Linked DNA regions of Homo sapiens. The protein of the gene in region 1 purifies or fractionates together with the protein of each later gene. This does not show direct contact. Each region holds a gene or a part of one and is shown in the gene's direction. Other genes may lie near its edges. The genes, in order: LARS1, TPM1, NDRG3, SDCCAG8, TANK, ATAD3A and VARS1.

The links.
Region 2: the proteins of LARS1 (region 1) and TPM1 purify together in Homo sapiens (affinity purification with mass spectrometry, with the first as the bait; one large-scale study listed by BioGRID). This does not show direct contact.
Region 3: the proteins of LARS1 (region 1) and NDRG3 fractionate together in Homo sapiens (co-fractionation; one large-scale study listed by BioGRID). This does not show direct contact.
Region 4: the proteins of LARS1 (region 1) and SDCCAG8 purify together in Homo sapiens (affinity purification with mass spectrometry; 2 studies listed by BioGRID and IntAct, with this or other methods). This does not show direct contact.
Region 5: the proteins of LARS1 (region 1) and TANK purify together in Homo sapiens (tandem affinity purification; one large-scale study listed by IntAct). This does not show direct contact.
Region 6: the proteins of LARS1 (region 1) and ATAD3A purify together in Homo sapiens (affinity purification with mass spectrometry, with the first as the bait; one large-scale study listed by BioGRID). This does not show direct contact.
Region 7: the proteins of LARS1 (region 1) and VARS1 purify together in Homo sapiens (affinity purification with mass spectrometry; 2 studies listed by BioGRID, with this or other methods). This does not show direct contact.

The regions. Positions count from the first base shown.
Region 1 is NC_000005.10:146,172,651-146,176,150, reverse strand, and holds part of LARS1 (leucine--tRNA ligase, cytoplasmic), read left to right. Parts: intron 1-3,376; coding exon 3,377-3,464; intron 3,465-3,500. UniProt on the Homo sapiens protein: Aminoacyl-tRNA synthetase that catalyzes the specific attachment of leucine to its cognate tRNA (tRNA(Leu)).
Region 2 is NC_000015.10:63,052,747-63,056,246, forward strand, and holds part of TPM1 (tropomyosin alpha-1 chain), read left to right. Parts: intron 1-3,500. UniProt on the Homo sapiens protein: Binds to actin filaments in muscle and non-muscle cells. Plays a central role, in association with the troponin complex, in the calcium dependent regulation of vertebrate striated muscle contraction.
Region 3 is NC_000020.11:36,743,291-36,747,575, reverse strand, and holds the start of NDRG3 (protein NDRG3), read left to right. Parts: upstream 1-1,485; 5' UTR 1,486-1,531; exon of another isoform or gene 1,532-2,077; intron 2,078-4,285.
Region 4 is NC_000001.11:243,413,041-243,416,540, forward strand, and holds part of SDCCAG8 (serologically defined colon cancer antigen 8), read left to right. Parts: intron 1-2,661; coding exon 2,662-2,789; intron 2,790-3,500. UniProt on the Homo sapiens protein: Plays a role in the establishment of cell polarity and epithelial lumen formation. Also plays an essential role in ciliogenesis and subsequent Hedgehog signaling pathway that requires the presence of intact primary cilia for pathway activation.
Region 5 is NC_000002.12:161,201,928-161,205,427, forward strand, and holds part of TANK (TRAF family member-associated NF-kappa-B activator), read left to right. Parts: intron 1-1,559; coding exon 1,560-1,668; intron 1,669-2,747; coding exon 2,748-2,866; coding exon of another isoform or gene 2,867-2,899; exon of another isoform or gene 2,900-3,049; intron 3,050-3,500.
Region 6 is NC_000001.11:1,522,162-1,525,661, forward strand, and holds part of ATAD3A (ATPase family AAA domain-containing protein 3A), read left to right. Parts: intron 1-582; coding exon 583-738; intron 739-1,349; coding exon 1,350-1,406; intron 1,407-1,677; coding exon 1,678-1,803; intron 1,804-2,111; coding exon 2,112-2,236; intron 2,237-3,078; coding exon 3,079-3,130; intron 3,131-3,500. UniProt on the Homo sapiens protein: Essential for mitochondrial network organization, mitochondrial metabolism and cell growth at organism and cellular level. May play an important role in mitochondrial protein synthesis. May also participate in mitochondrial DNA replication.
Region 7 is NC_000006.12:31,792,953-31,797,043, reverse strand, and holds the start of VARS1 (valine--tRNA ligase), read left to right. Parts: upstream 1-1,291; 5' UTR 1,292-1,498; exon of another isoform or gene 1,499-1,793; 5' UTR 1,794-1,826; coding exon 1,827-2,213; intron 2,214-3,923; coding exon 3,924-4,058; intron 4,059-4,091. UniProt on the Homo sapiens protein: Catalyzes the attachment of valine to tRNA(Val).

The DNA.
Region 1 (3,500 bases):
AGACAAAGTCTTGCTGTGTCATTCAAGCTGGAGTGCAGTGGCACAGTCATAGCTCACTGTAACTTCAAACTCCCGAGCTCAAGCAATCCTTCTTCCTCGGCCTTCTGAGTAGCTGGGACTACAGGCATGCGCCACCATGCCTGGCTAATTTGTTTTTTCTTAGAGACAGGGTCTTGCTATGTTGCCCAGGCTGGTCTCAAACTCCTGGCTTCAAGTGATCCTTCTGCCTTGGCCTCTCAAAGCTCTTAAGATTATAAGACATGAGCCATCACTCCTGGCCTCATTTTACCTTTTAATTTTTTTTGTTTTTGTTTTTTTTTTTTGAGACGGAGTCTTGCTCTGTCACCCAGGCTGGAGTGCAGTGGCGCAATCTCGGCTCACTGCAAGCTCCGCCTGCCGGGTTCACGCCATTCTCCTGCTTCAGCCTCCTGAGTAGCTGGAACTACAGGCGGCTGCCACCATGCCCGGCTAATTTTTTTGTATTTTTAGTAGAGATGGGGTTGCATTGTGGTCTCGATCTCCTGACCTCGTGATCTGCCTGCCTCGGCCTTCCAAAGTGCTGGGATTACAGGCGTGAGCCACTGCGCCCGGCCTTTTTTTTTTTTTTTTTGAGGTGGAGTCTTGCTCTGTTGCCTAGGCTGGGTGCAGTGGCATGATCTCGGCTCACTGCAACCTCTGCCTCCCGGGTTCAATGATTTTTCTGCCTCAGCCTCCCCAGTAGCTGGGATTACAGGTGCATGCCACCACGCCTGGCTAAGTTTTAATTTTTGTTTTTAATAGAGACGGGGTTTTGCCATGTTGGCCAGTCTGGTCTCAAACTCAAATGATCCGCCTGCCTCCGACTCCCAAAGTGCTGGGATTACACGCGTGAGCCACTGTGCCCGCCCATTATCTTTTTTTTTTTTTTAATTTGGAGACAGAGTCTGTGGTGTCAGATGGAGCGAGCCTCTGTCACCCAGGCTGGAGTGCAGTTGTGTGATCTCAGCTCACTGCAACCTCTGTCTCCTGGGCTCAGGTGATCCTCTCACCTCAGCCTCCTGAGTAGGTGGGACTGTAGGCGCACGCCACCACACCCAGGTAATTTTTCTATTTTTAGTAGAAATGGGGTCTTGTTATGTTGCTGAGGCTGGTCCCAACTCCTGGGCTCAAGTGATCTGCCCACCCCGGCCTCCCAAAGTGCCGGGATTATAGGCATGGGCCACTGCACCCAGCATTGAAAAAATTTCTTTTGTAGAAATGAAGTTTCACTGTCTTGCCCAGGCTAGTCTTGAACTCCTGGGCTCAAGTAATCCTCCCACTTTTGCCTCCCAAAGTGTTGGGATTACAGGTTTGAGCCACCATGCCTGGCCTTAATCTTCTCAATATACTTTAAGGTTAACAGCTTTTAAAATTTCTCTTTTACAGCTGAGGAAACTGAGGCACAGAGAGGCTAAGTAACCAGTTCAAGGTTACATCACTGGGAATTGACTGGGCCTGGGCTTGTTTTTAGGACTTTCTGATTCAAAAGTCTTTTTTCCTTGCTTATTAAGCTATATTCTAATGGATATATATATATATATATATGGATATATACATATATGGATATATATATATATGGATATATACATATATGGATATATATATATATATGGATATATATATATATATATGGATATATATATATATGGATATATATATATATATATGGATATATATATATATATTTGAGACAGAGTTTTGCTGTTGTTGCCCAGGCTGGAGTGCAATGGTGTGATCTCGGCTCACCGCAACCTCCGACTCCCGTGTTCAAGCGATTCTCCTGCCTCAGCCTCCCCTGTAGCTGGGATTACAGGCATGCGCCACCACGCACAGCTAATTTTGTAGTTTTACTAGAGACGGGTTTTCTCCACGTTAGGCTAGTCTTGAAATCCCAACCTCAGGTGATCCGCCCGCCTCCGCCTCCCAAAGTGCTGGGATTAGAGGTGTGAGCCACCAGGCCCCAGCCTTTTTTTTTTTTTTTTTTTTTTAAGAGAAAAAGAAATTGCTGTAATATAGTCTCTGGTGTTATACTTGAAGCTATAATTTGAAGCTTCTATTTTCTTCTAGAGGTTTGGTTAACTTTAAGGTAATTTAAAATAATTACAAGTGAACTGAAAAAGCTGCTTTGTTTAGTGAAAGAGAATTAACTATAGGTGTATGCAGTAAGACTGAAGAAAGTAATATAATGTCAAGTGAAGAAGGCAAATTGCAGAAGTCTATATGAAGTATGCCTTTTTTTTGTATGAAACTCACAAGTGAGCGAAACTAAATGATAAATAGTTTAAGGGTGCTGCCAAGTGTGCAAACTATTCAAAAACAAGGGAACGGTAAAAGCAAATTTCAGAATGTCGGTTATCTCTTGTGGGACAGTAGAGAGGAAACAGGTAGTTTCAGTGGATTCATAAGTCAGATGGTGTGTTTACAAGTGTTCATTTTATTATGCTTCATAACACAGTATGTATGTTAGATATTCTTCATAAGAAAAAAGAATACAGACCAAGCATGGTGGCTCATGAGCTCATGCTCATGGTGGTTCTTATATTGAGAACCCTGTCTTTACAAAAACAACTAAAAAATTAAAAAAAAAAAAAAAGCTTTAAAGGATGCGTTTAAAGTGAATCTACCACATATCAAGTAATATTGAGGATGTTTTATATTACCTGAGGGACTTTGAATTGCTTTATATATATATCTAGTATCTAGTGAAAACAAATCTCATTTATTCAGTAAAATATTAAATTAGCCTAGGTTCATAAGGGTATTAAAGAATTTTTTTTTTTTTGAGATGGAGTCTCATTTTCGCCCAGGCTGGAGTGCAGTGGCATGATCTCAGCTCATTGCAACCTCTGCCTCTCAGGTTCAATGATCAGGCGATTCTTGATTCTCATGCTTAACCACTAGAGTAGCTGGGATTATCAGCGCACGCCATCACGCCCGGCTAGTTTTTAGTAGAGACAGGGTTTCACCATGTTGCCCAGGCTGGTCTCGAACTCCTGGCCTCAAGCAGTCCACCAGCCTTGGCCTCCCAAAGTGTTGGGATTACAGGTGTGAGCCACCACGCCTGACCTAGTATATTATCTTTACTCAAGTATTTTAGCTCAAATTAAACCTCTAGTATTTGTTACAAGGCTATTTAATTCTTAATAGCAACCTATCAATGTCTTATTTCTTGTAAATCTAAAGTAATTTTCAATTTTAGAGAGTTTTAAATTTGTAGATTTATAAATTTACTTTTAAATATTTTTTAAATAACCTTAAGTTATTTATATCAAGCATTTCCTTCACCCCACTTCCTTATTGTAAAAGGAACTTAACATTTATTCTTCTGTACTTTCTTTTTTATACTGTTGTTTTGCAGCAAGGGCAAGTATTTTGTAACCTTCCCATATCCATATATGAATGGACGCCTTCATTTGGGACACACGTTTTCTTTATCCAAATGTGAGGTAATGTTTCCCTATGTTTGCTATAATGGGGAGGAA
Region 2 (3,500 bases), on another chromosome or scaffold:
ATATTGAAATAAGCTCAAAACTTAAAAAAAAAAATACCAGAAATAAAAGCTAGTAAAGGTGAGAGGTGTGGGGCTTTTGGAACATAGAGCATAATAAATCAGAATAAAAAGTAAAAATAAGAAAGAGAAAAAAGTGGCCCTGATTAAATTATAAAATTAAGCATATCTTGAATTCTAACGAGCCAAACAAAAATTCTACTAGGCCAGTATAATAGGGCCTGCAGAGCCTGTCATGGGTTCAGGGTTTTCCCATAAAGATAGGTGTACCTCAGATACTACTCCTAGGTCCTGGCTTTAACCTCAAAGCCCCTCTGCCTGTCCTGCTCTGAAACCTCTGGGGCAGTAGGCATTGACTTCTGGGCTAGGGAGTAAATGTTCCGTGTCCTTATGTGAGCTTCCTATTACCCATTAGCATTGTTTTATGAAGTTTTCAATTTTATATCCTGCCTCATTTCAAAAAGATTGTGATAATCACTTTAGCAGATGATTTGCATTGCAGCAACTGTTCTCCCAGTCCTGGTTAGGATCTGTGCCTGAGGCCTTTTGTGGGGAGTTGGGGTGGGGGCCGGAGAACATCTCAATCTGATCTCAGGAGAGATAAAGACACAGGAGTGAGAACTGCCAGTTCCAAGGTTTCCGTGATGTTCCGGGAAGCCAGGAGAAGTGACATAGTGGAGAGCCGGCATGCTGGGAGCCTAGTGACTTGGATCTTAATCCTGTCTCACACTGATGGCTGTATGGCCTCCACATACTTCTGTGCCCAGGGTCAGAGTTCCCTCCTGCCGCCTGTTTCTAGTCAAGAGCTAGAAGAATAGCCAGCTTCTTTGGGTGGTGGCAAAGGGGATTGTTTATTTATAGTACAGATTCCTGCCCTCCCCCTTTGACCTCCTGAATCAGAATCTCTAGGGACACGGCCTGGAAGTTTGATTTTTTTTTTTTTTTTTTTGTTTTTGAGACAAGAGTCTTGCTCTGTCGCCCAGGCTGGAGTGCAGTGGCATGATCTCGGCTCACTGCAGTCTCTGCCTCCCGGGTTCAAGCAATTCTCCTGCCTCAGCCTCCTGAGTAGCTGGGATTACAGGCATGTGCCACCATGCCTGGCTAATTTTTGTGTTTTTTGTAGAGACGGGGTTTCACCATGTTGGTCAGGCTGGTCTCGAACTCCTGACCTCATGATTGCCCGCCTCGGCCTCCCAAAGTGCTGGGATTACAGGCGTGAGCCACAGCGCCCAGCTGAAAGTTTTTTTTTTAATGCTCATCTCTGAGTTGATTCTGACACTCAGCCACTTGTGGGAATTGCTGATCTGGACAATGCCTAGGGATCCTTCTAGCTAAAAAATTGAGACCCTATTTTTTGGATTTACAGGGCCTCCTCAGGAAGGGGCAGCCACTCTCAGGTCTGCTGTGTGTGCCCTACCATTCCTCCCACTATATCACAAACTGGCACCTAGAAACTGGTCTCCATGCCCAGTCGTTGCTGGGGCACCCTGTATGAAGCCCTGCTGGCTGGTATTCCTGTAGGACATATTCTCTGATGTCCAGGAGTCTGAGGTTCTACAGAATGCCCCTGGGGAAACAAGAGTGGCATTTAGACAACAGCATTCTGTAAACACAGTGCCAAGAGCTAAGGGAAAGAATGGGGGTGGGGGTGATCGGAGGGAAGACACGGATGGATTGGTAGGGGCCCTTTGGGTAGGAAGATCTCATGTGCAAGGCTGGAATGAACATGAGGTGCTGTTTCCTTCCTTTCTGGTGACTCGGCTGTGTGGGGAGCTGGGGATAGAGACCTGTCACCCAGAGGGTTCTTTCCCCAAAGCATAAACAGTCGTCTTTCTGTGAGTACAAAGTCCTTGAGGTTCAGGCCCAGATCTAAAGCAGAGCAGAGAACTTGGAACTTGGTAGCTACAAAAAAGTTTTGAAAATCTTGCTGGCATTTCTCTAATAGGCCATAGCCTCTGTAACAAGGATATTTGCCATCATATTGAAAATGATAAGAAAGGGGGAAAGAAAAGAAAGTGTACAGTGCTTTTGAGTACATAACCTAGACACTCTATGGAGGCTTTTTGTTGTTGTAGGGCTTTTGGTTTGTGTGCTTGGTTTTTTTGTGTGGCTTTAAATTTTGTTTTGTTTTGTTTGCCCTTTGTTTTTGCTTCCGCTTTGAGTCTCCCCCCCACCCTCAAAAGGAATAGAATTTTACTGGAAAATGAAAATATAGAAAAGTGAAGAAATCTTACCTGACCCAAAAGTATATCCTTAATATATACATCCTTCCAGTAATAGTAATAAAAAAAAAAAGCCTAATGGTTTTTAAAAGACACTTCCCTATAATTGAGAGATTTGTTATCCTATTACCCTCACCCTTCAATACACACACACACCAGAAACAACAGTCATCTGCCAGTAATTCCTAGCTGGGTCCATTTACCAGCTGTGCACTGATAATGATTTACTTTGTAGGCAGTACAGTTGTAAATGCTCTTCCTCTGATTTATTTCACATTTGCCCTGCTCCCTGCCTCCATCAACCAATTACTACATTTTTGTCAAGATAAAAGTGTATTTACATGTTTTTATAGAGTCCTTCACCGTGGTTGGAGATGCCCTACTCACCTCTCTTCCCAGATAAAACTTGGCATTTAAAATCTTACAAATCTAGGTGAGCAAAGAGCTGAAGGTTCTCAGATTCCTTTGATTAAAGACTATGACCACAGTTTCTAACTACATTTGCATTTCCAACTCTGTATTGTGGATCCATAAGCTGAGAACGTTGCTTTTATTAAAATTAGGTTGGTTTTACTCATCTTACTGAGCCCATACTCTGTGCAGAGAACTGTGAGTTCTCTGGATGTGAGCAGCTTACAGTTCAATGACAAAGACAGGGCTGTGTGTAGAGAAATTTGTTATCCTATTACCATGGGTCCCTAAGTGTGTATTGTAATTTCTAGAAAACTCCTAAGTGTTCTGAAAACCCCACCACCCCTTAGTGAACATACATTCAAAGTGGATGAGGATATTTTACCTGATTAGTAAATTCCATCTCCCACTTCCATGCACAATATTTAAACAGCCACCAGTGCAAGTGTGTATAATGGACCATCATAGTCTTATAAGTGTTCTGAGGCTCATAGCAACAATTTCTTATGACAGGAAAAAAATCATTGCCTCTCAAAGAAACCAACATTTTATTTCAGTGACAGATACCAAGTAAAAACAGTACTTGTATTATTTTTCTTTTTAGGAGTTTGATACTTTTCTTGTATTAACCTTGACTTCAAAGAAAAATCATAGGCTTACATCAAAAACACTTGGGAAATTTGTCTTGGCTCTGTTCCAATGAGGCCAGTTATTCTAAAAGGGGTTACTGGATTGTGTTGGGCCTTCATGTGGTGTGTATTTTAGAACCACTGAATTTTAAACTATTTAAGTTCCTTTGTAAGGATCCTATGATAAAGTGGCTTGAAGGAAAGAGTTGAGTGAAACTCTTGAGTCCGATTTCTGGCTGTA
Region 3 (4,285 bases), on another chromosome or scaffold:
GAGAGACTTAATTGTCTAACCAAGGACATAGGGATAAATAGTGGATGGTGAACTAGAACTAATTTGAATTCAGTAAATGTTAACGAACATAAACCATAAAATAAATGGCTGTGCTCAATTAATGTTAGTTTTCCTTCCAACTAAATTCAGTTCAAGAATTGTGCTTGATGAATAACAATATTATTGCTGCCCTCTGAGATGTTTGGTAATATTCATTTGTTCAGTTTGCCTTAATTAAAAGAATATGCTTTTAGTGGCCGGGCGTGGTGGCTCACACCTGTAATCCCAGCACTTTGGGACGCAGAAGCAGGCGGATTGCTTGAGGTCAGGAGTTTGAGACCAGCTTGGCCAACATGGTGAAACCCCATCTCTACTAAAAAAAAAAAAATACAAAAATTACCCAGGCATGGTGGCGCCCGCCTCTAGTCCCAGCTACTTGGGAGGCTGAGGGACTTGGGAACCTGAGCCGAGATGGCGACACTGGCTCGGGTTAAAAGGGCGTGGTGGCTCACACACCTGTAATCCCAGCACTTTGGGAGGCCGAGGCGGGCAGATGACGAGGTCAAGAGATCGAGACCATCCTGGCCAACACGGTGAAAACCCGTCTCTACTAATAATAGAAAAATTAGCCAGGCCCGGTGGCACACGCCTACAGTGCCAGCTACTCGGGAGGCTGAGGCAGGAGAATCGCTTGAACCCAGGAGGCAGAGGTTGCAGTGAGCCGAGATCGCGCTAGTGCACTCCAGCCTGGCGACAGAGTGAGACTCCGTCTCAAAAAACAAAACAAAACAAAACAAAAAAACTTTTAGTCAGTGGTACTTAATGGTAAAGAAATAATAGATAATAAATAGAGGAAGAGTGTGTCCTGTACATTTTGGTGTTAAATTGTTGGGTCATTAAGTTTAATATCTGCAATCATTCTGGGAAAAAAAATTCCATCTCTAATGTTGCATTCAAGAAAGTAGATGATTTGGCTGACGGTTGTAATAGGGGTGATACAATGGAGGACTGGTAATTCGGAGCCCTGAGTCTTGGACTCTAGTTCTTAAATTACTATGTTCATTCACCAAAAATTTACTAAGCTCTTTCCACGTGCCGAGCACTGTGCTAGGCGCCCTGTGACCTTGGGTATGGCTCTAGGTCACCTTAAAAGGAGGATGCCATACCCTGCAAGAGCTCTTAGGGGCTTCATAAGGATGCGACTCAGGGAACTGAGGGAAGCGCTCCAGACGCAGAGCTCAATGGCCCTGCCGCCCAGCGCCTCCAAAATCTGAGATTCTTCTCTGAGGAAACTCCGCAGCAAGAAAAACTACATCAAAGATGGCGCCGCCGGCCTCTCCTGGCTCAGCCACCATCTTCTCGGTAGTTCCCGAGGTGGACGGGCACAGCACTCATGCGCCGCCCTGGCGTCCTCGGCGCGCCTGCGCGGACCGCAGCACCTCCCCCGCCCCTCTCGCCGCCGCCGCCGCCGCCGCCGCCGCCGCCGCCGCCGCCGCTGCTGCTGCACTGACGGCGGGTGCCCGCGCCTCAGGTGAGTGAGCGCCTCCGCCCGGCCCGCGGGGGGCGCGCGGCGCCGCATTCGGGGGCGTCGCTCCTTTGCCCTGCTCCTTCCCCGCATCATCTCCGCGGCACGGCGAGGCCCTGGTGGCCCGTGCTGCTTGCCTCCCCCGTGCCCCCGGGGCCCTCTGCCCCGCCCCGCCCGCCCGCCGGACCCAGGTCAGCCCGGCTTTCCTCGGCCGCTCCCCGCGCCCAGCCCGCCGGCGACAGCGTGTGGGTAGCAAGAGAGCCTCCCTCCGGGCTCAACACCCTGGGTCACAGGGACGCCCCCCGCAGGCGCGAACCCTTCTCTCGCTCTGGCTCTGCAGGCGGCAGAGCTTGGTGGGCCTTGGGGTTGCTCATCCATCTACCTCGCCCGCTCCAAGAGCCCAGATGCTTGGAAGAGGGGCCGTGAGCAGCCCTTGCACCCGTCCGGCCCCAGAGCAGCAGAGGGCATCCTCTAACGGGACCCTACGACTACCCTACCGGGGAGAGGCTTCTTAGCCCCACTTAACAGCCGAGGAAACTGAGGCACGGAAAGGTGAAGTGCCATGCCCAAGGTCACGCAGCTGACAAGTGGCAGGGTCAGCTCTCAACTCAGGGTCTCGGGCTCTCAGGCCAGTGCGGTTGGAATTTGATCTCGTACCTTTGAAAAAATTTTGAAATCACTTGTCATCTCTGAAGTTGCTCTCGAACGTCGTAAAAGTAGGCTGCACAAAAAAGATTTTCTTGTTGTCGGAGTACAATTGAGGTGTTACTGTAATAATAATAGTGTTATTAATATAAGAGCTAACGTTCTTCCACCGCTCGCTGTGTGCCAGGGATCTTGCTAAGCATTTTATTAAGATAACCTCGCATAACCACCTCTGCACTTCCCAATCCAAATGCTTCCCCCTTCCTTGTCATGAAGCCCTTTTTTTCTTCCTGCAGAGCTGGCCTCCCTATCACAGGTAGACTAGGAGCCCCGTGGATTAGGAAGCAGGGAAGCTTTCCTTTGGTGGCTTACTGACAGAACAAGAGTGATCCTTGCCTGCTGGCATCCAGATCACCCCCGCCGCGCCCCCCCCCCCCCTTACCCTGGCCCTCAGGGGATATTATTAGCCTTCCTTTCCTGCCAAGAGAGCAGGACTGGGCTGACTGGGCTAGCTGGGCGGGCTGGACTTGGAGGTGACAGAGCAGATTTGGCTAGCACTCACCTCATTCCGGGGCTTTCTGTCCGAGGCTTTCTGCCTTTGCCCCAAGGTTGGGCTTGAACATTTCAGTATTTAAGATAAAGCAAGAAGAGAAAGAGAACATTGATAGAGTGGTGCTGAATTTAAGAAGCCTCCCATGATTTAAAGTTCCAAATGAACAGCTATAAAAATATGTGAATGTTTCTCCCCCAAAATAACTAGCTCAAACTGTCGTTTTTCTCCCTTAGCAAATCCTCCTCCACATTTCAAAGGCTCCACTAAATCACCACCTTCTCTGTGAAGCCTTCCCTGCTTGATTTTCCCAATTAGAATTACACGTTCACAAAACAGGGTCTTAGCCTCAGTCTTACCCTGCGGACTTCTAGCCCCTTGAGGGCATGGTCCATCTTTGCAGCTCCAGATGCCTGGCTCACAGTAGATCCTTGGTAAGGACTCAGTTAATTTCCACCCCCCCTTTTCATTACTCAAAGCGTGGTGTTCTTCTGGTGCCCTTCTGTTCCTCCTTCCTGCCCTTCAGTTTCTCTTTGCTTGTCTCTTCCTTCAGATTAAACTTGTCATCACCATTTACCACTCAAAGGCCTCCATCCACCCTGTTGTTTTTGAAAACTTGCAGATAAGAGTCTTGCATCAAAAAGCCTGTTTATGGACCGGGCGCTGCGGCTCACGCCTGTAATCCCAGCACTTTGGGAGGCCGAGGTGGGTGGATCACGAGTTCGGGAGATGGAGACCATCCTGGCTAATACGGGGAAACCCCGTCTGTACTAAAAAATAACAGAAAATTAGCCGCGTGTGGTGGTGGGCGCCTGTAGTCCCAGCTACTCGGGAGGCTGAGGCAGGAGAATGGCGTGAACCCGGGAGCTGGAGCTTGCAGTGAGCCGAGATCGCGCCACTGCACTCCAGCCTGGGCAACAGAGCTCCGTCTCAAAAAAAAAAAAAAAAAAAAAGCTTGTTTATGTTACTTGAACGTGCACTCACGATTGAGCTGCTTTTGTTTTTTGTTTGTTTTTTGTTTGTTTTTGTTTGTTTTTTGAGACGGAGTCTCGCTCTGTTGCCCAGGCTGGAGTACAGTGGCGCCATCTCGGCTCACTGCAAGCTCCGCCTCCCAGATTCACGCCATTCTCCTGCCTCAGCCTCCTGAGCAGCTGGGACTACAGGTGCTCGCCACCACCCCCAGCTAATTTTTTTTGTATTTTTTTAGTAGAGACAGGGTTTCACCGTGTTAGCCAGGATGGTCTCGATTTCCTGACCTCGTGATCCGCCTGCCTCGGCCTCCCATAGTGCTGGGATTACAGGCGTGAGCCACCAAGCCAGGCCGAGCTGCTTTTGTTTTATTATTATTATTATTATTTTTTGAGACGGAGTTTCGCTCTTGTTGCCCAGGCTGGAGTGCAGTGGCGCAATCTCGGCTCACTGCAACCTCCGCATCCTGGGTTCAAGCGATTTTCCTGCCTCAGCCACCCAAGTAGCTGGAATTACAGGCGCCCGCCACCATGCCCAGCTATTTTTTGTATTTTTAGTGGAGACGGATTTTCACCATGTTGGCCAAGCTGGTCTTG
Region 4 (3,500 bases), on another chromosome or scaffold:
TAATGTATAGTTTCCCAAATAGAGGGAAATTTGGGGAAGGATTCGAGAAACATCAGTTGATGTGTAACTCAACATTTGTTGGTAGAAGTCTTTTAAATTGTTTTATTTTATAAAAAGGACTTCAATTATGACAGTAGTTCTTTTCTATAGTCAATTTATTTTTTATTTTTATTTATCTATTTTGAGACAGAATCTCACTCTATCACTCAGGCTGGAGTTCAGTGGCACAATCTCTGCTCGCTGCATCCTCTACCTCTCAGGTTGAAGTGATTCTGATGCCTCAGCCTCCCAAGTAGCTGGGATTACAGGCATGCACCACCACGCCCAGCTAATTTGTGTATTTTTAGTAGAGATGGGGTTTTGCCTTGTTGGCCATGCTGATCTCTAACTCCTGGCCTTAAGTGATCTGCCCACCTTGGCCTCCCAAAGTGCTGGGATTACAGATGTGAGCCACCGTGCCTGACCTATAGTCAATTTAGAATATCAGTAATTAGGCAGCTTATTCTAAAGAATGATGGTGAGATTGACAACCCCTTTACATTGGGGAACTGTAAGTACCAGTTTGTGATGGGTAGTTTCAGTTGTGACTGTTATCTTGGTATAATTATTAATAGTGCCCCTTTCACTTTCAGATGGGTATTGGTGTTGGAGAATGCATTTATGTCACCCAATTGTTAGGGGTTGCAGAGCCCCAGATTTCTATCTCTGGCTCCTGCCCCGGCAGGGGGTCTGACTTGGGGATGGTCTGACAGGGCTTTTTGTTTTTTTAGCTGACTCCTTTAGCAGCACGGTCTCCAGCTGGCAGAGCCATTAGAACCATTCTCTTCTAAGCACCTTTTTCTAACACGTCTGAAAAGTTTTTGCCTCCTCTCGTAAGACTTAAGCAGATTCTCCAGCTACACGTTAAGATAGCAGCCTTCCTTTCCCCTATGACAAGAGTATAACAACATCCAATCATGAAATATTCACCACCCACTTCCTGTGTGCCAAGCACTGAGGCTGGGCTGAGGGTATAGAGAGATAAAGATGACAAACGAAGCAGACATGTTAAACAATAACTAAAGTGTGATAAATACTATCTTTGTACGATGTACACAACATATATTGAGGTCATTGAGGGAAGAATAGTTAATTCAGGAGAGAGGAAGGAGAGGGGAAGAATTTTGAGTTAGGCCTGAAGCGGGTAGTTGTATGTATACATCTTACAGGGGGATTGAGTGGGCAGGTGGAGGGGCTTTCCAGGAAGAGGAAGAGACATGTGCAGTGATCCATGGCCAGAAAATACATGGTGTGACTGGGGAGGCAAAAAGTAGCCTAGTCTGACTATCCATTTGTTGTATATACTGGTTTGGAACCGAGTGCGACGCAAGACCTTGGACCACATCCCGGGGGGAGGTGTTGTTATTAGAAGTACCAGACAGGACCTTATTTCACATTTAGCATGGACCCCCGATGATTCCATTTGAGTGAGGTGTGGGTGTATTTTCATTCCAGAATTTTATACTACAACATGACCACATGCATTGACCAATTTTAATACAGGCTTTCCTTATGTTGCTTTATAATTAGAAGCCAGTGAATTGAAGTTCCACAGCGGTACATAGACTAGTAGTGATAGCTTTATGGAATTGTTTATTTTTAGTTTGGCAAAGGCTAAGCAGTAAATATCTCAATTAGTAAACTAAAGCAGCATGGATGAGAAATGCCCGCAAGGAGATCAGGAGTTAGAAATAACTAAGTCAGTTAATTGAAGGAAACCCTAATATCACTTACCCATATTTAGAGTTTGAAGAACCATTCTAATATGTGTGTGTGTGTGTGTGTGTGTGTGTGTGCACATGTACATGCACACACACACTGTCAGTATCCACAGTGCTGCCAGCATTGAGGTCCTTTGCATTCCCCAGGTTCTAATTGTTTAGGAAGTTTCTCTCTTTGGAGCCACTGTGCTTGGTTATTGACCCAGTGGGATAGGTCAGTGTCCTATCACAGTACGATGGGTTGTTGTCTGACTACAGAAGCTTTTCATCCTGCAATTTCTTTCAATGTGACCCACGAGGGATTTTATTATGAAGTGCTGGGGGAAGTTATTCGTATTCATATTTGTATTCATATTCACATTATATGGCCTGATGTGTGAAGATATTTAGTGAAAACATGAATGTGGCACTGCAGAATCATTTACTCGCCTCTAGATAGAGGCTCCTGCATTATATTTAAGATTCCATTTTAAGTTTAGAGTGAAAACAGAGGTGGTCTACAAAGCTTAGTTTTAAGAATTTAAGTTTTGTTCCTAGAGTTCCAGTATCTCTGGGAAAGATTGACCACTCAGAAGATGAAACATTCATTGATAGTGTAAAACATTAAGAATATTAGAGAAAAAAGTTTTGTGTTTTAAAGTTACAAAATACCATTATTTAGTTGTTATGATGTTTTGACACTGCACACTTTAGTCCATTTGGATTCATGGCACGTATTTAACACTGTATGGAAGGTTGTTTGGATCTTCCCCCTAAAGTGGGGGAGGGTCATTAGAAAGGTCCTTGTCTTCTTATGCTTAACAATTTACTACGTATCAGCTCTCTCTGGTCTATAGGGGACATGATGGGGGTTTGTGCATCTGCAGATTAAATTTCTGTATGTCTCCTCTCTGTTTTGCAGACAGGAAAAAGATAGCATTCAGCAGAGCTTTAGCAAGGAAGCAAAGGCCCAAGCCCTTCAGGCCCAGCAAAGAGAGCAGGAGCTGACACAGAAGATACAGCAAATGGAGGCCCAGCATGACAAAACTGGTAGGTGGTAGGGAAAGATTAGAGCCTGGGCACTAGCTCACAAGTCAGGCCCACGCCTTACTGTGAAATGACATCAGGAACACCTGTAACCTTTGGCTGGCCGAAGGGAGCAGATGCTAACTACACCGGAGATTCCGAATTACATATTAGTTAGCGTTTAAAAGAGAAAATGGAAAGTATTGCCCACTGTCTGTTGATTTCAGAGTGCTGCTCTCACATCTGTTGCACCATCTGGATTATGAGTTTATTTACCTGTGTTCAAGAAACGTAAAGCTGAGAGAGACCACAACAAAGTAGAAAAACAAAGGGCTTGTTTTTGGCTGGGTTTTCAGGCACACATGTTATATAAAGAAAATAGCATCAGAAGCTCTGCGGGAAATGCTCTGAGCTTACAGTTAGAGTCTCCTGAATAGCATTGAACAGTTCCCACAGTACACACATTATAGCTACTCTAAAAGCCTAATGAGTTTGCTTCAGCATCCAAACTGGAGAAAAGCTTTAGCCATTAATCGGTTCTTAATTCACTGTCGCAGCTGGATGTAATTCAGTGGCTCCAAATTGATATGTTCCTTTATTTAATCTTTGCAGCTTCGAACATTTTTAGCATTTGTATGATTTCCCCACCTCCCCCAACCCAATCTAGAGTGATGTTTAATCCTTTGCATTCTTCAAGTTCTCACAACTGCTGTTAAAATTCACTAATACAAGGCA
Region 5 (3,500 bases), on another chromosome or scaffold:
AATGTAATTGGAATCCGTATTTCCTTTTTTAATTTTTCAGTGAACATATACTGAACATCTCCTATGTATAAGTTACTTAATCCATATGAATTCTGTGGGGAATGTGAAACTATGTAAGACTGCCTTTAGGCAATGTGCAAAGACAATGTACCACATGGGTTGCTTATCAGCTTTGTCAGTTATTCATATTTGGAGTGTATTACTTATAAAAGTTCACCTTTCATTTGGGAAAATGTAGTATTTAGCTCTAATTTCTTTTTTTTTTTTTTTTTTTTTTTTTGAGACAGAGTCTGGATCTGTTGCCCAGGCTGGAGTGCAGTGGTGTGATCTTGGCTCACTGCAAGCTCCGCCTCCCGGGTTCACATCATTCTCCTGCCTCAGCCTCCCAAGTAGCTGGGACTACAGGTGCCTGCCACCACGCCTGGCTAATTTTTTGTATTTTTAGTGGAGATGGGGTTTCACTGTGTTAACCAGGATGGTCTCAATCTCCTGACCTCGTGATCCACCTACCTCAGCCTCCCAAGCTTTAATTTCTTAAGCTAATTTATATTTGCTAATCTATGAACAGCTATGTAATTTATTAAAATTTTTAAGTTTATTGGTCTCTGAAAATAATAGAGCTTCACTAATTTTGAACTTTAAGAATCAGTTTAAAGTGAAATATCTAGTATCTACTGAAGATCATTCTGAGATTATTAGAACTTCATTTTCATTTTATATTTCAAGGAATTTGCAACTTAGTCATTATTTATTTATCCCTCCAGGGATAGAAATTGGTTAAAAAAAGAGTTCTCTGCTATTGTTTGGTGATACGCTTTTAAGACTGTACTAATTTGGTAATTGTGATACAACAGTTTCAAATTTGCTTGAATGTTTGCAGCATCTGTATTCCTCAGTACAAACTTGTGTCTTTTTTCATTGCTTTATTCTCACAGTCACTGCAATAACATAGCAAAATTAATGGATTAACAATATAAGGGAAACTGGCATTTAAGACACCAAAGGTCAACTATATTCTCTTAATTTCTTAAAACTTAGTGGAGAAGTTTCTGGTCAGTATAATTTTATAATTTGCATTTGTCCCTTTGATTTGTATCAACACTTCCTTAGTGTTTGTGTACTCTAAAAATAAATTTAGAAGTGTGTTTATTTGAAAGACACAAAATCTTAATTTTTTAAGTTAGTATGTATTTTTAAAGAATCACTTTAATATAGCATCTGTTGTATCATTTGTGCTTTTTTTTTTCCATTAAGGAATAAATGCTAAATTACAGTTTTGATCCTTACTGAAGGATCAGGAAATCATAGATTGAATCCTTGACTGAAATGTCTTTAAATAAGTTAATCTTTAAAACTTCTGCGGTGCTTTAAGTGTCTTGAATCACTGATGTTTGTAACAATTACAAGTACATTCCTGGAGCCAGTTTGTATCTCATAAATCACAATACCTGCAAAATGACAATGTGGGCAACTCATATCTATTTATATTATCAATGGATGGTAAATATATGTTCATGTCTATCAGTGAATATCAGGCTAACTGGTTTTTATGTCAGCAGACTGAGAACTATGAGCAGAGAATACGTGAACAACAGGAACAGCTGTCACTTCAACAGACTATTATTGACAAGCTAAAATCTCAGTTACTTCTTGTGAATTCCACTCAAGGTATGTTCATGTTAATTTTTTATGTATTTCTAGAACCTCTTGGTGAAAAGAAAGGTGTAAGTTGAGTTTTTCTATTTTATTCCTTCGTTGTTTCTCAATAGTTTTGATATTATAACTGTGGTACAGTTATATGTTATGTTTATTTAAATGAACACTTGCAGGATATGGGAAAGTGGACTTTCACATATACTATACTATATGGTAGAACTCTAAGTTTATAAAACTTCCTAAAAAGCAATTTGCCAGTAAATAGCAGCAAAAGCTTTTGAAAACATCTATGCCTTTTGAACCAAAAACTCAAGTCCTAAGACTATATCATAAGAAAATATTTGTTCAGGTACTCAAAAATATATATGCGAGGATGTGTATCACAGTATAATGTCTAATCATGGAAAGCTAGAAACAAATATTCAGTAGTTACACTGATCTATATGAATAGCTATGTAGCCAAGAAAAGTGATGATAATAGGTATTAACTTGTAAGAATATGTGGACGATATATAGCAAAATGAACAAAGCAGGATACATAAATAAGTGTTTTTTTCATTTATGCAGAAAAAGGTGATTCTTGTGTGAAGTTATATGTATAGGAAAAGAAGAATTCTGATAGAATATATAAACCAAAATATTAACTGGAATAATTCACAGGTGATAAAAATTTGGGTAGCATTTACTTTTTATTCTTTTTGGCTGTCTGCATTTTCTAATTTTCCCATAATAAGCATGGAGTCATAATACAAATAATTATCTTAAATAAGAAACGCATACCTGAAAATGTGAATATAAAAGTTGAATTGTTGCTGACAGATGCAAAGAGCATATTTCTAGTTTTCTAAATTCTGCATATTTTACATACTGCTGGCTTTTGGAGAGCAGGGGTTTTGTGTGTTTGTTTAGTGGGAAGGAAAAAATATAAATGGACAACTTGTCAAAGTAACTATTACCTAAAGAATTTTCTAAAACTCCTACCTTAAAATGTATTCTCTTTATGGTTTTGAGTTTGTATTATTTTTTGCTTTTTCAGGTGGTACCAAAAATAAGGGTTTTCTGCTAATGTCCAAGAGGTTTTTGTCTTGCAGATAACAATTATGGCTGTGTTCCTCTGCTTGAAGACAGTGAAACAAGAAAGAATAATTTGACTCTTGATCAGCCACAAGATAAAGTGATTTCAGGAATAGCAAGAGAAAAACTACCAAAGGTAGACATTGCTTCTGCAGAAAGCAGCATTTAAATGCTGATGCGTGACATAGCTTCCTCATTTTATTTTTCTGAAGTGATCTGCTGGAATTCCAAACAGAAGTTCCATATATACAAATATGTGGCTTAAATATTTCTAAATAGAAGAACTATTTTCAAGTAAAATAAAGGCTGAGGTTTTGTATTTCCTACTGACCGTTTTTCTACATCACAAGCATTTCAACAAAGAAAACATTTAACAAAGAAATAGGGCTGGACACACTGACTCACTCCTGTAATTCAAACACTTTGGGAGGCCAAGGAGGGAGGATCACTTGAGCTCAGCAGTTTGAGACCAGCCTGGGCAACATAGGGGGATCCCTATCTCTATAAAAAATGAAAAAATTAGCCACGCAGAATGGCACACGCCTGCAGTCCCAGTTACTCAGTAGGAGGATTGTTTGGGCCTAAGAAGTCAAGGCTGCTGCAGTGACCCATGATCATGACACTGCATTCCAGTTTGGGTAACAGAGTGAGACCCTATCTCTAAATAAATAAATAAATGAATTAATGAATGAATGCCACATACATATGTACATATATGTGTGTGTGTGGTGTGTGTGTGTATATATATAAACAATGAAATAAAAGATTAA
Region 6 (3,500 bases), on another chromosome or scaffold:
CCCAAGTAGATGGGATTACAGGCATGTGCCACCATGGCCAGCTAATTTTTTGTATTTTTAGTAGAGACGGGGTTTCTCCATGTGGGTTAGGCTGGTCTTGAACTCTTGACCTCAGGTGATCCACCTGCCTCAGCCTCCCAAAGTGCTGGGATTACAGACCTGAGCTACTGTGCCCAGCCAGCCTAATTGATTTTTAAAACGAGTTAGAGATTTTGGGTTAGTCTTGTTTTCCAGGAATAAAGTACCATTTTTAGTGGCCAAGAATGTACCAGAGGGTGTGGCCCTGTGACATCCGGCTGGGTCTGTCCAGGGCCCCGCTCAGCGACCGAGGCTTTCTAGGATTTATGCTGCCAGTTGCAGAGAAAATGGCCCTGAGTGAGGGCGCTGTGACTGCCCCACCTGCCTCCTGTAACCGCGTGGCTGTGGGATTCGGGGCCGGGAATTCGCGTTCCTGTGGGGCCAGTGCACGGCCCTGTGCTTCTCCCTCGGGCGGAGAGAGGGTGGGGGCAGCCCCGTGCGTCTCCTGCTCTAAGAGGGAGGGACGGTGGGGGCCGGTGCGCCAGTGCGGTGTCTCTGCTGCAGGTGGCTGGGCTGACGCTGCTGGCTGTTGGGGTCTACTCAGCCAAGAATGCCACGCTTGTCGCCGGCCGCTTCATCGAGGCTCGGCTGGGGAAGCCGTCCCTAGTGAGGGAGACGTCCCGCATCACGGTGCTTGAGGCGCTGCGGCACCCCATCCAGGTAGCAGCGCAGGCCTGGCCCTCCCTGAGTGCAGTTCCTGGCTGAGTCCCTTCTGCCCCACGAGCACAGCCCACGCACACCCTCCCGTCCCTTCCCTTTCCCCGGATAACGGGCACCCGCACACTGCTTCACGGGTGGGTTTTCCTGTCTGGCGCTGTACCTTAGGGGTCTGCATCAGTGAGACCCTTCCCCTGTCTGCCTCGGTGTCCCCTGCTCAGGGCTCTTGATGGGGCCTGGGAGCACATCGGGGTCCTTGCAAGACCCGGGACTTGGGTGTGCGGCCGTCTATCAGGGAAGCTGCTACAGGCCACGGCGTCTGGTGGCCTCCCTGGGGAGCCGCGCCGCTCGCCGCCCCCGAGGTGCCTGCTCTCCACAGGTCACTGGGTAGGTGGTTAAGAAAATAAAAGCCAATAAGGAACCGGAAAATGCCCCTAATCCCAGCAATAGCCGCCTGGTCTCCGGGCGGGGCAGGGTTCCAGCTCCGGGCCGGTCCTGGCTGTGCTTTGGGGCAGCTCCGTTTCTGCGTGTTACCGAGCGTGTGTGTGCGCGTTGGTGGCTGTTCCGTGGCTGTGGCAGGTGACCCGATGGCGCTTCCCCTTCCCCTCCGGCAGGTCAGCCGGCGGCTCCTCAGTCGACCCCAGGACGCGCTGGAGGGTGTTGTGCTCAGTGTAAGTCGGTGTGCCTGGGACCGGGGAGGCGCAGGGAGGGGACCCTGGAGCTGGGCCGGGCTGTGGCCCTTGCTGGCGCTCGTGGTGGCACCCAGGAGCTTTTGGGTCCTGAGATGCGACTGCTTGGACCGTGCTGGGGATAGATAGGCTGCCCCTGAGGTGGGAGGCTTCCCGAGGAGCCGAGTCTGCACCCAGGCATTCCCGCAGCCCCTTCCCCTGAGGCTTCCATGGGTGCACAGTGTCTCCTCCAAACCCCCGTCTTCCCCGGCAGCCCAGCCTGGAAGCACGGGTGCGCGACATCGCCATAGCAACAAGGAACACCAAGAAGAACCGCAGCCTGTACAGGAACATCCTGATGTACGGGCCACCAGGCACCGGGAAGACGCTGTTTGCCAAGGTGAGAGCGCCTGGCTGAACAGGTGGGCCAGGGGCCGCTGGGGTCTCACCTGCCTGCAGGTGTCTGGGGGGCTCAGCTGCCTGGGGAATGGACCCCCCTTAGGCCTTTGCCCACCCTCGTGTAGGCTCAGGGTGCTGGTGTGGGCAGCAGCGCCTCCCATCTTCCAGGCGGGGGACGTCTCCTGTCTGGCAGGCTGTGGCTTCCAGGCAGGGACGCTGGGCAGAGCCTCCACACTCCGGGTGGAGTGTGCAGGCTTTGCAGAGGCGGAGGGAACATCTGCTCTGTCTCCCCTCACTCTTCCTGTCCAGAAACTCGCCCTGCACTCAGGCATGGACTACGCCATCATGACAGGCGGGGACGTGGCCCCCATGGGGCGGGAAGGCGTGACCGCCATGCACAAGCTCTTTGACTGGGCCAATACCAGCCGGCGCGGGTGAGACGTCCCCACAGCATGCACCAGGCCCTTGGCTGCGGCCCAGCAGGCTGCCTTCTGGGAAGGGGGTCCAGGTGTCTCTTGGGGACCCTGTCTTTCTGCAGCTCTGTCCTTGTGGCCACGCAGGAGGCCCAGTGGAGGGTCCCTCGGAGGGAAAGTCCCCTGAGTGTGGACCCTGGTGGACACGAGGCCCCCAGCGTGTGGAGGCTGCCAGTGGGATACTTGGCTCAGGGCAGAAGGGAGGTGGGTGGGTGCAGGGGGAGAGGAGTCTTCACAGCTGCAGGGGAGGCTCCTCCACAGCCGCCCTCCCCCCAACACGCCTGCAGGTGGGCGTGGGCACTGGTTGCCTTTTCTAGAACCATTTGAAAGTTAGCTGAAGACAGCATGGCACACTCCCTTCAATAGGTCCCACAGTGACCCCGCGCAGGGCACAGCCCGGGCACCCTTGTGGCCTCGGCTGTCCTCGTTGGAACCACGATGCTCATGGTTGGCACCCTCCCCTCTGGCCTTTGACCTTTCACTTTAGAAGACCTGTCCCTGTCGTGGACTCTAAGCGGCCACCAGTGCTGCACTGGGCCGGGTGGGGGTGAAGCCTGTGGGGCGGAGTTCGTCGCCCCCGTGTGTGGTTGGTTTCCCACGGCCTTCTGAGGCTGGGCCGTGGTCAGCTGCCCAGAGGCCAGGCTGATCGGCTTCTGTCGAGTCCAGGACTTAGGGCTGCTGATGGGGCAGAGCCTGACCCCGTGGGGATCTGCCTGCTTGGCCTGCTCCTGCCGCGGCCGGACGCTGCTGTGGGCTGCTCCTGGTGTCACTCTCGCCCTGCTTGGCCTCCCTCTCGTTCACAGCCTCCTGCTCTTTGTGGATGAAGCGGACGCCTTCCTTCGGAAGCGAGCCACCGTGAGTGTCACTAAGCCTCTGGCCACAATGGGGTGGTGGGGTGGGCACAGCCGTCTGCCTGGGCCAGGCTGCAGCCCTCTGTTCAGTTTCTTTTTCTCTGTAAGCTTTGTGTGAAAAACAGCTTTTTTTTTTTTTTTTTTTGAGAAGAAATCTCGCTCTATCACCCAGGCTGGAGTGCAATGGCCCCATCTCGGCTCACTGCAAGCTCCACCTCCCAGGTTCACGCCATTCTCCCGCCTCAGCCTCCCAAGTAGCTGGGACTACAGGCTCCCGCCACCACACCTGGCTAATTTTTTGTGTTTTTAGCAGAGACGGGGTTTCACCGTGTTAGCCAGGATGGTCTCGATCTCCTGACCTCGTGATCCTCCCG
Region 7 (4,091 bases), on another chromosome or scaffold:
ATACAAGTGATGTAATTTATATTTTAGAGAAAAGTTGTGACTGGGAATTACTAAACTTCATTCACTCATTCAGCAAATATGAGTTCATGATACAGATGAGACTTCTCAGCCTTAAGGGACCCTTAGAGACCATCTAGTGTGACCCTCCTTTTTGTTTTTGAGACGGGAGTCTCACTCTGTTGCCCAGGGTGGAGTGCACTGGCTTGGTCTGGCTCACTGCAACCTCCGCCTCCCGGTTCAAGCGATTCTCCTGCCACAGCTCCTGAGTAGCTGGGATTACAGATGCCCACCACCATGCCCGGCTAATTTTTTTTTTTTTTTTTTTTTTTTGAGATGGAGTCTCACTTTGTCACCCAGGCTGGACTGCAGTGGTGTGATCTTAGCTCTGCAATCTCCGCCTCCCAGGTTCAAGTGATCTTCTTGCCTCAGCTTCCCAAGTAGCTGGGCTTACAGGTGTGTGCCACCACGCCTGGCTAATTTTTGTATTTTTACAAATACTGCAGCTCTGTCGCCAGGCTGGAGTGCAGTGGCACGATCTCAGTTCACTGCAACCTCAACCTCCAGGGTTCAAGCAATTCCCTGCCTCAGGCTCCGGGGTAGCTGGGATTACAGGCGCCTGCCACCACACCTGGCTAATTTTTGTATTTTTAGTAGAGACGGGGTTTCACCATCTTGGCCTGGCTGGTCTTGAACTCCTGACCTGGTGATCCACCCGCCCTGGCCTCCCAGAGTGCTGGGATTACAGGCGTGAGACGGGCTTTCACCACCTTGGCCAGGCTAGTCTTGAACTTCTGACCTCAGGTGATCCGCCCACCTCGGCCTCCCAAAGTGCTGGGATTATAGGCGTGAGCCACTGCGCCCGGCCGTCACCCTTTTTTCATACATGAGGAGATGAGGCTCAAAGAGGAAGCTGGACGCCAGGGCCTCGGCAAATGGACCTCCCCTTCGGTCCTCATCAGGCGGCTCCCTGCTGGGCACCTCCCCGCTACCGGGTGGGGAACGCCCTCCACCGGCAGGGCCGGCCGACCCTCTTGGGCCAGTTCCCTAGCTGCCCGCTGGGCGCCGCCCTCGCCACCCGGCCGAGGACCCGCACAAGGTGCCCGTGGCGGCGCCTGACGGGAGCGTCGTGCTCAGGGGTGTCCTCTCGTCCTGCGTCCGCGCCCAGCGCCCCGCGCCCCGCGCTGTTCCTCGTGAGACCGGCGGGCGGCGAGCCGCGCGGCCCCCGGGGCAGTGTCGGACACGGCGGGCGCGCACTCGCAGGCGGGGCACGGCCGCCCCCGCCAGGACCCGCAGGCCCGGAAACGCTCCCTGTCACAAAGGGGGGAACACGTGGGCGCCGGCTGCCGGGGCGGCGATCTTAGGGAACTAGGGTCACCTGGAGAGCCGCCCACCGTCTCTGCCCGCTCGACTCCTCCGCCCGGGCCGCTCGGCCGGTCCAGCCGCGGCCGGCGCCTGGCTGTGAGGTGGATTCCCGGCCCAGTCTGACCATCTCCCTCCAGTACGTACACGCGGCTCGAACCCGCATCCAACCAGACGCCGACCCGCTCCTGAGAGCCTTCCACACTCCCCGAAGCCCCGCGATGGTGGATAGTTCCTCTTCCCCAGGAACTCCCCACTGACACTGCCCCTCTGAGAGCCAGGTCCTCGGCTCCTGACAGCCTGCCTGGTCAGACCCTCAGTCCTATGGGACTCGGGTGTCTGCGGCGAAGGAGCTCCCGTGAGGGTCCCCTCTCTACTCAAACATAGGACCCACCTCGATCCCGCAGTCTTCCCCTGTCTCTCTTTCTCCTTAGGTTTTTCCACTTCGTTCGGACCTTCTCATAACTATGTCCACCCTCTACGTCTCCCCTCACCCAGATGCCTTCCCCAGCCTCCGAGCCCTCATAGCCGCTCGCTATGGGGAGGCTGGGGAGGGTCCCGGATGGGGAGGAGCCCACCCCCGCATCTGTCTCCAGCCACCCCCGACTAGCAGGACTCCCTTTCCCCCACCCCGCCTGCCGGCCCTGGAGCAGGGGCCCGGTGGGCTCTGGGTGTGGGGGGCCACGGCTGTGGCCCAGCTGCTGTGGCCAGCAGGCCTGGGGGGCCCAGGGGGCAGCCGGGCGGCTGTCCTTGTCCAACAGTGGGTCAGTTACGCCGACACGGAGTTAATACCAGCTGCCTGTGGAGCAACGCTGCCGGCCCTGGGACTCCGAAGCTCGGCCCAGGACCCCCAGGTGAGGGGGTTGTACAGAAGAGGGGGAGGGGAGAAATTCAGAGGAGGGAAGCGAGGACTGGAATGGACAATGAGACAAGAAGGTAGTACATCAGATGTGGGAAAAGAGTGATCAAATCCCAGATTGCCAACTGGTATGGTAACCCTGGGCACGTTTCATAGACCCGCTGTGTCTTGGTCTTCCTATGTCTATGAACACGCAGGCAAGTTGATGTAATGCTTGCCTCACTGAGTTAATAGGATTAAAAGATGTGCGCAGAGCACATAGTTTAGTGCCAGGCACTTTTAAAGTCTCTTAGTAAAAGTTTGATGAGTCTGAAATTGATGAGGATAGAAGTTATTTGAATTGTAGGAAAAGACTGGGTGAGGGAGAGATGACAATTGCTGGGAGGAGATAAAAGAGAAATGAAATGAGGAAGGTAAGTGAGAGGAGAGATAACCCTGCCAGATTGTAACTATCAGTCCTTCCAAAGGAGACCTGTGCCTTGGTGTACTTTCAACTCTGCCTCCTTGCATGGTATTGAGCACATGATGGAAAATTAGTATTTCTTGAATGGATGAATGAATGTGGCAGACCCTGACTTGCTCCCTCATATTGTGATCACCCTATCTACAATAGAGTCCTTGCATTCAGAATGTCTGTCCAAACAAACAAATAAAATAGAGTCCCTCTCTTCTGGAATTCCCTGTTTGTTCCCCTCTTTTATTTCTTTTCTTTTCTTTTTTTTTTTTTTTTTTGAGACAGAATCTCCTTCTGTTGCCCAGGCTGGAGTGCCACGGTGCGATGGTGCGATCTCAGCTCACTGCTCAAGCGATTCTCCTGCCTCAGCCTTCTGAGTAGCTGGGATTACAGGCGCCCACCACCTTGTCCGGCTAATTTTTTGTATTTTTAGTAGAGATGGGGTTTTGTCATGTTGACCAGGCTGGTCTCGAACTCCTAACCTCAGATGGTCTGCTCGCCTCGGCCTCCCAAAGTGCTGAGATTATAGGTGTGAGCCACCACGCCTGGCCCCTGTTCCCCTCATTCTGCTTTATTTTTCTTCATAGGAGTTAAGAAAAATAGGGCACTTCATTTTATATTTGCTCATTTGTTGTTCCCCTACAAGAATGTTAACTCTACCAGGTCAGGGTTCTGTCCATCTGTTCGTGTTTTCCTCTCATTCCCTGGAGAAGTACTTAATACATATTTATTGATGTTCTGAACCTGGCAGTTATTGAGATGCCTCATATAATCTTTACTTCTATGCTTAACATATTGCATCTAACACATAAGTATTGAGTAGGGATTTGTTGGATGAGTCAGAAGTGTTTTGTTTTTTTTTTTCTGAGACGGAGTCTCGCTGTGTTGCCCAGGCTGGAGTGCAGTGGCGTGATCTCGGCTCACTGCAAGCTCCACCTCCTGGGTTCATGCCATTCTCCTGCCTCAGCCTCCCGAGTAGCTGGGACTACAGGCGCCCGCCACCACGCCTGGCTATTTTTTTTTTGTATTTTTAGTAGAGATGAGGTTTCACCATGTTAGCCAGGATGGTCTCGATCTCCTGACCTCGTGATCCGCCCAGAAGTATTTTTATTGTGACTATTTGAGTGAAGAAATGGGACTCAGAGGTGGTGATTTGTGAGAGTGGGGTGGAGGGAGGCCACATGGATTGGGTTGTGGTGGGAGATGGAGGTGGGCCAAACCTTGTCTCACACTTCTTCCCCTTCCTGCCAGGCTGTGCTGGGGGCCCTGGGCAGGGCCCTGAGCCCCTTGGAGGAGTGGCTTCGGCTGCACACCTACTTGGCCGGGGAGGCCCCCACTCTGGCTGACCTGGCGGCTGTCACAGCCTTGCTGCTGCCTTTCCGATACGTGAGTCACCAGGCCTGGGGAAGAACAAGACTG